Regions from separate parts of the Homo sapiens genome. Here region 1 is linked to region 2. Evidence: fine-mapped expression QTL. A gene starts in region 2. The other region holds a variant in brackets. All regions are shown on one strand. Distances are between the middles of the regions.

Region 1 (5,374 bases), 26 kb after region 2:
TTGTCTCCCCCAACTCATCCCCTCCTTCCCTCCACTCCAGAAGCTGTCGCTTCAACATGCCAGGCTCCCTCCTGCCTTGGGGACTTTGTGCTGGCTGGCCTCTCTGCCTGGAGCGTCCTTATATCTAGACACTCAGATGACTCACCTTCTCCTTCCCTGTAGTTCTCCACTCACAGGTCTCTTCTCTGTGAATCCTTCCTGGACCCCACTTTAAAATGGAAATCCCAGTACTCTGTGTGGCCGCACATACACTACAATTGGAACAATACGGAGAAGATGAGCACAGCTTCTGTGCAAGGATGACACACAGATTCGTGGTGTTCAAAAAATAGATGCATAAATAATGGAAACCCCCTTTCCTGACACTTCCTACCTCGCCTTTGCTTATTTTTCTCCTTGGCACGTGTCACCTTCTAATGCACTACCTACCTTACCTATATACCATGACTACTGTCTGCTCCACACAAGGTTTTAAGCCCCATGAGGACAGAGACGTTTGTCTGTTTTGTCCAGGCTCCAGAACCCAGTACAGTTGCCTGGCACTTAGTAGGTGGTCAATCGATGTTGAGTGAGTGAATGAATGAATGAATGAATGAATGTGACACAGGCCAAGAGCTGTGGGGCATTGTGGAGGAAGCCAGAAGGCGTGCATTCCCCACTGAGAGTGCTTCACCAAGGAAGCTTGAGCTGAGCCTTGAAGGACGGGTGAGGTTCAGTGAAATCATAATAACGGTTGGGATAACTGCTAGGGTGAGACTTGTGAAATCTTAGGCACTGCTTCTTCAGGGCTCTACTCTCAGGGAGAGGAAGGGGCAAGTCCTGGAGAAGCCAAGTGCAAGGTGGGTTCAGGAAATTGGCAGGTGAAACAGGACTCCTGGTGCACTGGGGTTTGAAATGGAGCTCCAGGGACATCCAGGGAATACCGCAAATCATTAGGTCCCTGTCATAAGCTGCCTGTGGCAACAAAATATCTTCCCTTGGCCCCAGTCAAGAAAAGAAAGTGATTCACATTGAGCGCTAGGAATCACGTAGGCCTGAAGTGCCTTCTCGTGGCTATGCCTGCCTTCCAGGGAAATCTCTTGCAGGGGAAGAAAGGAAAAGTGTGCGGATCAATCGTCAATGATTGGGCAGTGACTCCCAATTCCAGTGAAACCCTGGTAATTATGCATCGCCATGACGACCGCTGCACTCCAGACGAAGCTGCTTTTAACTCCATCAGAGGCAGACGCGCTCTGTGCACTTTTCAACCTCAGTCTGAAATGCTGAAACCACAAGCTTCGTTCTCGGAATCCCATGTAGAAAGCCAGAACTCCACCTTCAGGAAAGGGAGGGCTCGGGGACACATTCCCACCCTGCTCAAAAACCCTCTCCAAAATACTGCGTCTATTACTCCAGGGCTCCCACCCTCCTGTCTACTGTCTGTTCCCTCGTGCCCACACCCACCCCACTTTTGCCAAATGTATGTACTCATCCCTTTCTGAAGGCACTGGGGAGGAGAGCAGTAGATAGACAAACTGAGGAATGAAAGAGAACAGAATGTTCTGGAAATCGCAGAAAATCTGGCTTGGGCTGGAGCACATGGGGACGGCAGGGCACGTGCTGAAGAGGAAGGACATTGAGGTCCTGGGTTGACTTCAGCTCTCCCACCGGCCAGTGACATGTGGGGCAAGTTTGTCAGCCACCGAAGCTCCAGTTCCTCACCTGTAAAATAGAGAAGATAATGCCCCCTTGCAAATCCGTGGCCAGAAATAAATGAGGCCAAGTGTGAGAAAGCGTCTAGCACAGAAGGAGACAGGAGGGGCTCTGGATGCCCCAAGAGGGTGGGAGGGAGGTCCTGTCACTCCTCATCAAGGATCTGGGTTTTGTCAGGTGGGTAGCGGGGAGTCAGAGAAAGATTTAAAGCTGGGGAAGGGCTGGTGTTATCATTAAACCCATTTTACAGATGACAACACTGAGGTACAGAAAAGTTAAGTAACTTGCTCAACCCACGTAGTTTGTGGGTGGCAGAACTGGATTTAACCCCTGCTCCTAACCACCATTATGGTTATTCTTCCTTCAGCCGAACAAAGAAGAAGGGCTTGAACACTAAAGAAATGTCATGCATTGAGGTAGAAGAACTGACTGATGAACAGAGGAAAAACTGAACTTGGCCGTCGTTCCAACCTAGTGGTTAAGCTGCTGAAAAAAAGAGAAGAATTTACATAATCTGCATATTCATCAAGGGAGCATCTTGAACCAAGATAGATCCGTGGAGCCAGTGGCAGGACTACCCCTGGCCAAATATTTCGCACATGGGCCAATCTAAGCTCTGCTTATTCCCGAGGCCAACCACGAGGCCTTGTTGAGCTTGGAGAAGAATCTGAGAGAGCAGCCGTCT[T/C]CCGTCCTCCAGCATGGCAGACTCATGCAGATCTGGAAGGGAGAGGTCCCAGCGTCAGGATTCAGAAATGCTCACCCACACGTACACAACAAAGAAATGTGCGCCAAGCAAAGGAAAGCCAGAGGTTAGCAACAGGGGAGCCGCTACCGGCACTGGTCACATAATCCGTGGGGCCCCTGCAAAATGAACCCACAGCGCCCCTTTGAAAATTAATAACAGTTGAAGACGACAGCACAGCCTGGAACCAAGAGCAGGGCCTTTGACGACGTTCAGGGGTGACGACGCCCTCCCTTCCTCCCCCACTGTGCCTCTGACCCTATATTTTTCGTTTTATTTTGAAACAATGTCAAGCTTATAGAAAAGTTGCAAGTACTATGCAAATAACACTTTTTTTCTTACTGAACTGTTTGATGGTAGATTCGAGGCTGAGACATTTGACTTTCTAGGAAACCTCAGTAGTTTATGGGGACAGTAGAAGAGTCTGTTTGATGCTGTGGTTTTTGTCATTGCATCCTAACGGGCGGGGCACAACGGTGATATGTCCCGTTTCTGATGTTCACGTGGATTACGTGATGAGAACGGTATCCAGACTTCACTCTTCTGTCCTTTGTAATTAGTTTCCTTATCACTATTCTGTAGAAGAGGCAATAAAGGCCTTTTGCATTCATATTGGTGCCCAGATCATTAAGATTATTTGGAGAAAGATTTTTATCTGTATATGTGTGTATACACATATGTATATATACAAATAGATGTATAGGTCTGTGTATGTTTATATACATACACTTATATTATGTTATCTGGTTTCCAAAACAGATTTGCATCAGTTTAAGAAAAAATAACAGGATAACTAAAAAATTGTGCAGTCATTTAAATACTCTTATACTCTGCTGGTGGGAGTGCCAATTAGTATAATGTTTCTGAAATGCATCTTATCATATAAAGTCTTAAAATGTTTAAATATTGGCCAGGCACGGTGGTTCACACTCACTCTCACCCCACACACACCCACACACTCACACACACACACACACTCACACACACACACACCCTCCAACACATACATATGGGATTATCAGCTGAAGAACTTAGAATGACTAGAAAAATAAAAAGAGATCAAATAGAAAACAGAGCTTAGAGACGGGGGGGTAGAATGAGCACTGTGATAGGAGTTCCAGAGAGGAGACTGCCCTTTTCCTCACTTGTGCTGCTTGGAGTGTGTGGCCAATGGCCGTACGCCTGAGATCTTCTCCAGAGACGTGTGCTCAGCCTACAAGAGCCACCCTGCTGAGGAAATTATACTCCTCCACCTAGGGCAGGACTGGTGGACACAGGGATACACAAGCCCAGGCCTCAGCTTGAGGCTGGACAGCTCTGCAGACCACCCTCCCTCCCAGGATCTGGTCCAGATTAGATGTTGCCTGAGGCAGCACCCGCCCCTCCTGCTCCCCTCGCTCCCTTGGAGGTTTTTCCTGAGTGAGCCAGCTGCATGTGCACGCTGTCTCAGGATCCACCTCCAGGAACCCGGCTGCTGTGGGTTGAATTGTGTCCCCCAGAAAGACATGTGGAAGTCCTAACCCCCAAGACCTGGGGATGTGTCCTAATTTAGAAATAGGGTCTTTGGAGTTGCATTTAAGGTAAGATGATGCCAGACTCCATTAGGGTGGGTCTTCACCCACTGGGATTGATGTCTTTACAAGAAGAGATGAGACATAGACAAAGACACACTGAGAGAGGCCGTATAATGATGGAGGCAGAGATCTGAGCCATGTGCACTCATAGCCAAGGACTGCTGGCAACACCAGAAACTAAAAGAAAGGCATGGGACAAAGTCACCCACCCCTAGATGTTATGACAGCCATGGGAAACTAGGACACTGACCTAAGCCAGCAGCCTTGGGTGTGCAGAGGGGAGTGCTGAAAGGATAGGGTTGGGTCACCGATGGCTGCTGGGGGCAGGGGCAGCCTGCCACCCTGACCCGGGGCCCTGTGGGAATCCTGCCATTTGGCACACACCACCCATGTAAGGGGCTCCCTCTAGAGAGATGGCAAGTGGGAAAGCAAGCCCAGACTGCAGAGGAGACCCGCGCCAGCCATTGCTGTCAATCAGCAGAGGAGACCCGTGTCAGCCATTGCTGTCAATCAGCAGAGGAGACCCGTGCCAGCCATTGCTGTCAATCAGCCTAGTTTTTAAAAATATAAACAGACAACAAGGTTTACCAGGTACTTGAGAAAAACCAACGGCATAGAAGAAGGCATGAATCAATATGAACCAATAAAACATCGAACCCATGAGAAAACCATGATCATTAGGAAATAAAAGACTTTTTATTTCTAACTGGTATTATGGGAGAGATTCAAGGTGTTAGTCCATAAAACAAGAAGTTGTAAAAAGTAGCAATCAGAGAGAAGTTCTTAGAAGTTAAAAATATTATTAGCCAGGTGCAGTGGCTCACGCCTGTAATCCCAGCACTTTGGGAGGCCGAGGTGGGCAGATCACCTGAGGTCAGGAGTTCGAGACCATCCTGGCCAATATGGTGAAACCCTGTCTCTACTAAAAACACAAAAACTAGCCTGGCATGGTGGTGCACACCTGTAATCCCAGCTACTTGGGAGGCTGAGGCACAAGAATTGCTTGAACCCAGGAGGCGGAGGTTGCAGTGAACTGAGATCACACCACTGCACTCCAGACTGGGCAACAGAGCGAGACTCCGTCTCAAAACAAAAACAAAAACAAATAAAAAAAATATTGCTTCGATGATGCCAGTTAGAGCAGAAACTCAGAGTACTTCAAGATGAATGCATTGGGTAGGCAGATGACAGATGATTACAAAGCCAAATGACGTAGTGATCAGGTGCAAAGTATTATTTTGTCAAACACACACACACAAAAAGTCAATTGGAACTCCAGGAGAATAAAAATCTATAAGAAACCGGTGATCTACTGAGAAGCAAACTTAAATGCAGAACGACTTGGAGCAATTAAAGGCATAAGAAG
Region 2 (5,374 bases):
TATGATGTATATGTATATGTATATGATGTATATGTATATATGTATATGTATATGATGTATATGTATATGATGTATATGTATATGTATATGTATATGATGTATATGTATATGTATATGATGTATATGTATATGATGTATATGTATATGTATATGATGTATATGTATATGTATATGATATATATGTATATGTATATGATGTATATGTATATGTATATGATGTATATGTATATGATGTATATGTATATGTATATGATGTATATGTATATGTATATGATGTATATGTATATGATGTATATGTATATGTATATGATGTATATGTATATGTATATGATGTATATGTATATGTATATGATGTATATGTATATGTATATGATGTATATGTATATGATGTATATGTATATGATGTATATGTATATGTATATGATGTATATGTATATGTATATGTATATGTATAAGCCATACATTTATAGGACACTTTACACTTGTCAAGAGTTTTCCCGGGATGGGTGTGATGGCTCACGCCTGTAATCCCAGCACTTTGAGAGGTCAAGGTGGGCGGGTCACTCGAGCCCAGCTCATGTGGACCAGCTTTGGGCAACATGGTAAAACCTCATGTCTACAAAAAAAATAAATAAATTAGATGGGTGTGGTGGCACATGCCTGTAGTCCCAGTTACTCAGGAGGCTGAGGTGGGAGGATCACTTGAGCCTGGGGAGGTTGAGGCTGCAGTGAGCCATGATTGCACCACTGCATTCCCACCTGGGGAGCAGAGTGACACCCTGACTCAAAACAAAAAAAACAATAAAAAAGAGTTTTCCCATGAATTACTTTATTTCAATATCCGTATAAAGCAGGAAAAATGGGTATTATTTCCTGCATTTGACAAATGGGAGAAACAGTAGTTACACGGTTAGCTCAAGTGATCACTGTTTAAGAGGTTTGTGGCAGCAACATCTAACTTTTAACTCACGAACATGGTTTTAAATGTCTTACATGAGAGATGTAAACAAGAATGTTTCATTTTCAAATAGAACACTTATTCCTGCATAATCGAGTCACCACCGTGGGGGCCACACAGCAGCCAGGGGTCCAAGTTTCCAGCCCCAGAGCTTTCCAGCCAGGGAGGGCTGGCCCAGGGCCCCTGTGGGGCTACTTGGCATCAGGTGTCTGGAGACCCGCCCCTGGACTCCACCCTCTTCACCCAAGCGTTAGGCACGTGTGGGCCGGAGTTTACACAGGAGGACCTTAGCGGGGCGTCTAAAAGAAGGGTGGCTCAGCAAACACGGGGCAGTGCGCCCTGGGATTCACAGTGGGAAGTGAGTGGCCTGCCTCGGCCATGCCAGCTGCGCCTGACCCTGTCGGGAAGGATTAGCTTTAATGAGGGGTCCGGACAGCCCATTCACTGCGCACTCCCACCCTGCCCCGGGAGAGCAAAATAACTTTCTCTACGGAGCACTCTGGTGTGTGTGTGTGTGTGTGTGTGTGTGTGTGTGTGTGTGTGTGTGTGTGTGTACACAAACATTTACTTGGTTGGCTGAGGCGGAGGGTGTGACCCAGTGGGCCACACCTCCCACCGCCCTACCCCGCTACGTGGAGGCGAGGAACAGTGGCCGCGGGCTACCGGGGCGCCTTCCGAAAAGAGAACCACTACGCGGCCCGCCGCCCCTCTGGCTGGACAAAGTGAAGCCGCAGGCAGATCCGAGTCGCCAATGTCCTCCCGGGCGGCTGGCGCGGACGGGGCTGAAGTTCAATGCAGCCTGCACGGATTAGGGAGCTCCGAGCCCCCAAATACCACAGAGACCCAAAGTACACTCCCGGGGCGGGGGAAGGGAACGGCGGCAGAGGAGACCCCCGCTCCAGGCCCAGAAACGCCCGGAGAGAAACTGGAGCGGAGGGGGTGCATTGGAAGACGCAGCTACACAGCTCCCCCCAACCCCCGCCCCGCTGCTTTCCCCACCCACCGCCCCTCCCCTCTCCTCCCTCCCCTCCCCTCTCTCCGTCTCCAGCAGCCGAGCGCGGGCTCCACCTCCCCGGAGCGCAGTCCACACCGTCCCTTTTCAGCAAAACAACACAACGCACCGCCCCCCGCACCCGCACCCGGCTGGATACCGGGCTACGCCCAGCCGCCCACCCGCCGCGCCCGGCGCCCCCTCTAGTCTGCAGCCGCCCAGCCCCCGCCCCAGGCGGAGCCCCAGCCCTGGCTGCACGCGGGCAGAGAGAGAGATTGAGCCCCGGCTCCGCCAGCCCAGCTCGGGCCCTGTCCCTCTACCCTTTCCCCAAGCCGCCCGAAGTGACAGGAGGGGCACGCACGGCGCGCGCGGGGCGTCCAGCGTTAACCGCTTCGGCGCCGGGGACGGGAGCGACAGGAGGGCTGGGGAGCAGGGGACCGAGTGCTGGGACTCACCGGAATGTGCACGCGCAGCGAACGCCTCTTCTGGCTGGCATTTTTCTTGCCGCCGCTCCCGCCGGGGCTGGAAACATCTTTTTTCTTCTTGGTGTCCATAACCGCGCTTCCCATAACTCTAACCAGAAGTTGATTCTGCGAAACTCCTCGGGGGTTCGGTCCCCTCCTTCCCTCCCCCGGCCGCTGCCTTCGGACTGGAGCCGCGCGCTCTGTTACACCCTGAAGCCACCTCGTGGGGACTTCCGCGGAGAGGGAGGGTGAGCAGGGAACTCGCGCGGCCGCCGCCGCCGCCGAAGCGCCGAATTCAAGCGTCCTTTCCTACGGAACCCTCGTAGGCAAATCAGTCAAAGCCCGTCCCGGTTCTGGTGTCTCCCCGGGTTACTCGTGGCTGAGGTCTCCCGCTGGGTGACAAAGTTTTCTTCCTTTTGCAAAGCTAAGAAACATTTTCCACCCTCTCGGCTCCTCCCACAGATTCCCAGAGGTAATCTGAAAGGCAGGTGCAATTAAAACCAGCAATTTGGAAAACAAGCCTCCTATGCCTGTGCCCAAGTGGGGAATCTGGAACCAGTAAGCCCGTTCGTGCATAAATGTAATCCTCGGCCGCAGAATAAACCAGCTCGGAGCCTGCAGCTGGGTCCGTCCTCCTTTCTGGGCGAGAGGGAGGGCGGCGGGGGAAGAGGAGGTGCAAGGCGAGCCCTCTGCGCAATTAGGCTACGGGCGGCCGCTGGCAGAAGTTCTGGCGGCGGCGCTCGCGGCCCTGCGCGCCGGAGGGGGCGCCCGGAGTCCAGCGGGCCAAGAAGGGCAGGGCGCCCGCTCCTCGCCCCCCGCCGCGCCGCGGCCCCAGGGGACCGCAAGGGGACAGTGAGGGGCCGGGCCTGGCACCGACGCAAGCTCGGGGAGCGCGGGTGGTGGGAGGCGGCGCGTGTTGAACAGGAAGTGCGCGGCGTGCAGCGCCACCGTCCCGCTCCCCGTCGCCCCACGCCGCCCTCGTCGCCGCGCCCAGACCCCTGCGGCGGCCGCAGCCGCTTGGGACTCGCTGCGAGCTGGTTTCGGATCCATCCCGCCTCCCGGCGTCTCACTGTGTGCCCTACCCTTTGAAACACGCCCCCGCGCCCGCCCTGCCGTAGACCAGGCAGCGAGGAAGCCCACAGTCTCCGGGGGCGCTGCGCGCGAAGTAGCACGTGCTTCTCGAAACACCGCAGCCCCCGGGTCCCGCCCCGCCCGGCGCGCGCACTCGAACCCGCCCAGAGAGCGGTGCGTGGCGCTGGGTGCGAGCAGGGTCTAGCCACCCCCACCCTCACCCCACCCCACCCCACCCTGCTTTTTTCAGGTTCATCAAGGTTTGCGCAGTGGATCCGCGGTAAGTGCGTGTCCCCACGCCGCGGGAAACGTGGGGCTCCTGAGACTGCGGAAAGAATTGGGAGAAGGGGAGGGCTCGAAGACCCGGGCGAGGGTTCCCGGTGCGGCCCAGGTCCTTTAGAGCCCCGGGTGGGCATCCAGTACCGCCTGCTGCCGAGGGCCCTAGAGGGGTTGGGGGAGGGGGCTGGTGTGTCCCCCACCCCCAGATGCGCCCCAGGATGGCGCGACCTCGGCTCCCTGGTGGAAAGTAGGGGGAGTGCTGGCTTGGGGGTCGCTTCCCCTCCTGCTCTAGTTTCTGAGGATGTGATGACCCCAAAGGTCATTGGCGCTCCCAGAATGCTGACGTCAGCTCAGCCGCTCCGAGTAATCAGTAATGCAGGGAGGCCACCCGCAGAAAGAACGCGACAGGGGTCGCTTTGGGGACACCATAGGGCCTTTACTCCTTTTGAGGTGCGTGCTTTCGCAGGACTCCCTCCCCAGAGGAGGAGGCATGATCAGCCCACCCAAAGGATCATCTCTTAGGAAGCAGGCGTGCGCCCACGCAGGGAGAAGCATCCTTCCTTTCAGCTGCTTGCCGGGTGGCTTTTCCAACCCGAGTTCCAGCAGCTTGCACAAAATCCTTACAGCTTGGGTGGTTCCCTGGCTCATAGGGGTGGGTTTATATTCTTTCTCCTTCTCCTCTGCTCTCTGGTCCAGAATGAAGCCAGCCTGGAAGATCCCCAGTCTCGAGACAGAGCCTGACAGGGGCAGATGCACTGGAAGGACCCTGTCTGGGTTTAGCAACCAAGCAGCCATCCTGGCCCCACAGGTGTGGGACTTCTGGGTCTTCTCCTGGCTGGCTTCTTGCTAGAGGATTTCAAGAGACCCAGCAAGACTGTATTGTCCCACTGAATGCTCAAGATATTGGTTAGAAGTAGAAAAGGGGAGGGGGTAGTATTTAGCCTCTGTCCCCACTAAAAATTATTCCCAATTGTCATTTGTGTCATCTGTTTAGCTTACAGTTTTAATCCTTGTCAAAATGATCATTTGCCAGGGTGCATAAAACACCCTATTTGATGAGAACTGGTTTTAAAGGAAAATGGGGCCATCAGAAGGAAGCCGGTTGGTGTGAAGAGACGTCTGGGAAGAGCCCCTGGCGAGGGCCCTCATTCCACTGGGTGACCCAGAAGGAGAAAACCGCGATGGCGCTTCTCATTTGAAATGTTTTCTTTATGGACAGTGTTTAGCAATTGTTATAATGTGTACTTTTGTTGATTGATCTGTATACATATGTAAAATAATTTGTTCTCTGAGTTAATTTTGTTGGAACAAAGACTTTAGTGCTTCCTACATTAAAACATTTTACTGTATTGCCTGCATTTTAAGAGCCTTTTTTTAATTTTTAATTTTTTTGGTCCTTGTGATATGACGAGGTATAAATTCTGGGTTTTGTCCAGGGTTCCTGGCTTAGCACTCTCGTCGCCCTCATCACAGTCTCTTGTTATAATGTTGGGGCGCTTTAGGCCTCAGACACCCCAGGAAACAATCTCCTCTGAACTTCCCCTGCCCTCCTTCACCACCTCACCAGCCCAAGGCAGGACTCTAATCCTCCCTCATCTTTCTGATTGTGGG

Alleles and levels. Alleles are on the strand shown, and positions count from the first base shown. SD is a standard deviation of normalised expression in the study named.
For the expression in skin of the gene that starts at base 2,940 in region 2, allele C in region 1 goes with a lower level than allele T (small effect, 0.37 SD a copy in TwinsUK).

What was found.
Region 1: its variant is fine-mapped to the expression of PRKAG2-AS1 in skin (TwinsUK, PIP 0.95).

Annotation. Positions count from the first base shown.
Region 1 is chr7:151,900,041-151,905,414 of GRCh38, forward strand. It overlaps the pseudogene RNU6-604P. Among named protein-coding and RNA genes, the nearest start is that of PRKAG2, 26 kb to the left of the region's middle. RefSeq lists a silencer at 2,770-2,970. The variant T/C (reference allele first, on the strand shown) is at 2,378.
Region 2 is chr7:151,874,103-151,879,476 of GRCh38, forward strand. It overlaps PRKAG2-AS1 (PRKAG2 antisense RNA 1), which reads left to right and starts at 2,940. Exons shown (of 3, transcript NR_038926.1): 1 at 2,940-3,038; 2 at 3,735-3,764; 3 at 4,460-5,121. It overlaps PRKAG2 (protein kinase AMP-activated non-catalytic subunit gamma 2), which reads right to left and starts at 3,013. Exons shown (of 16, transcript NM_016203.4): 1 at 2,405-3,013. The coding sequence starts at 2,518. RefSeq lists an enhancer at 1,756-1,875 and silencers at 2,066-2,205, 2,266-2,315, 3,078-3,507.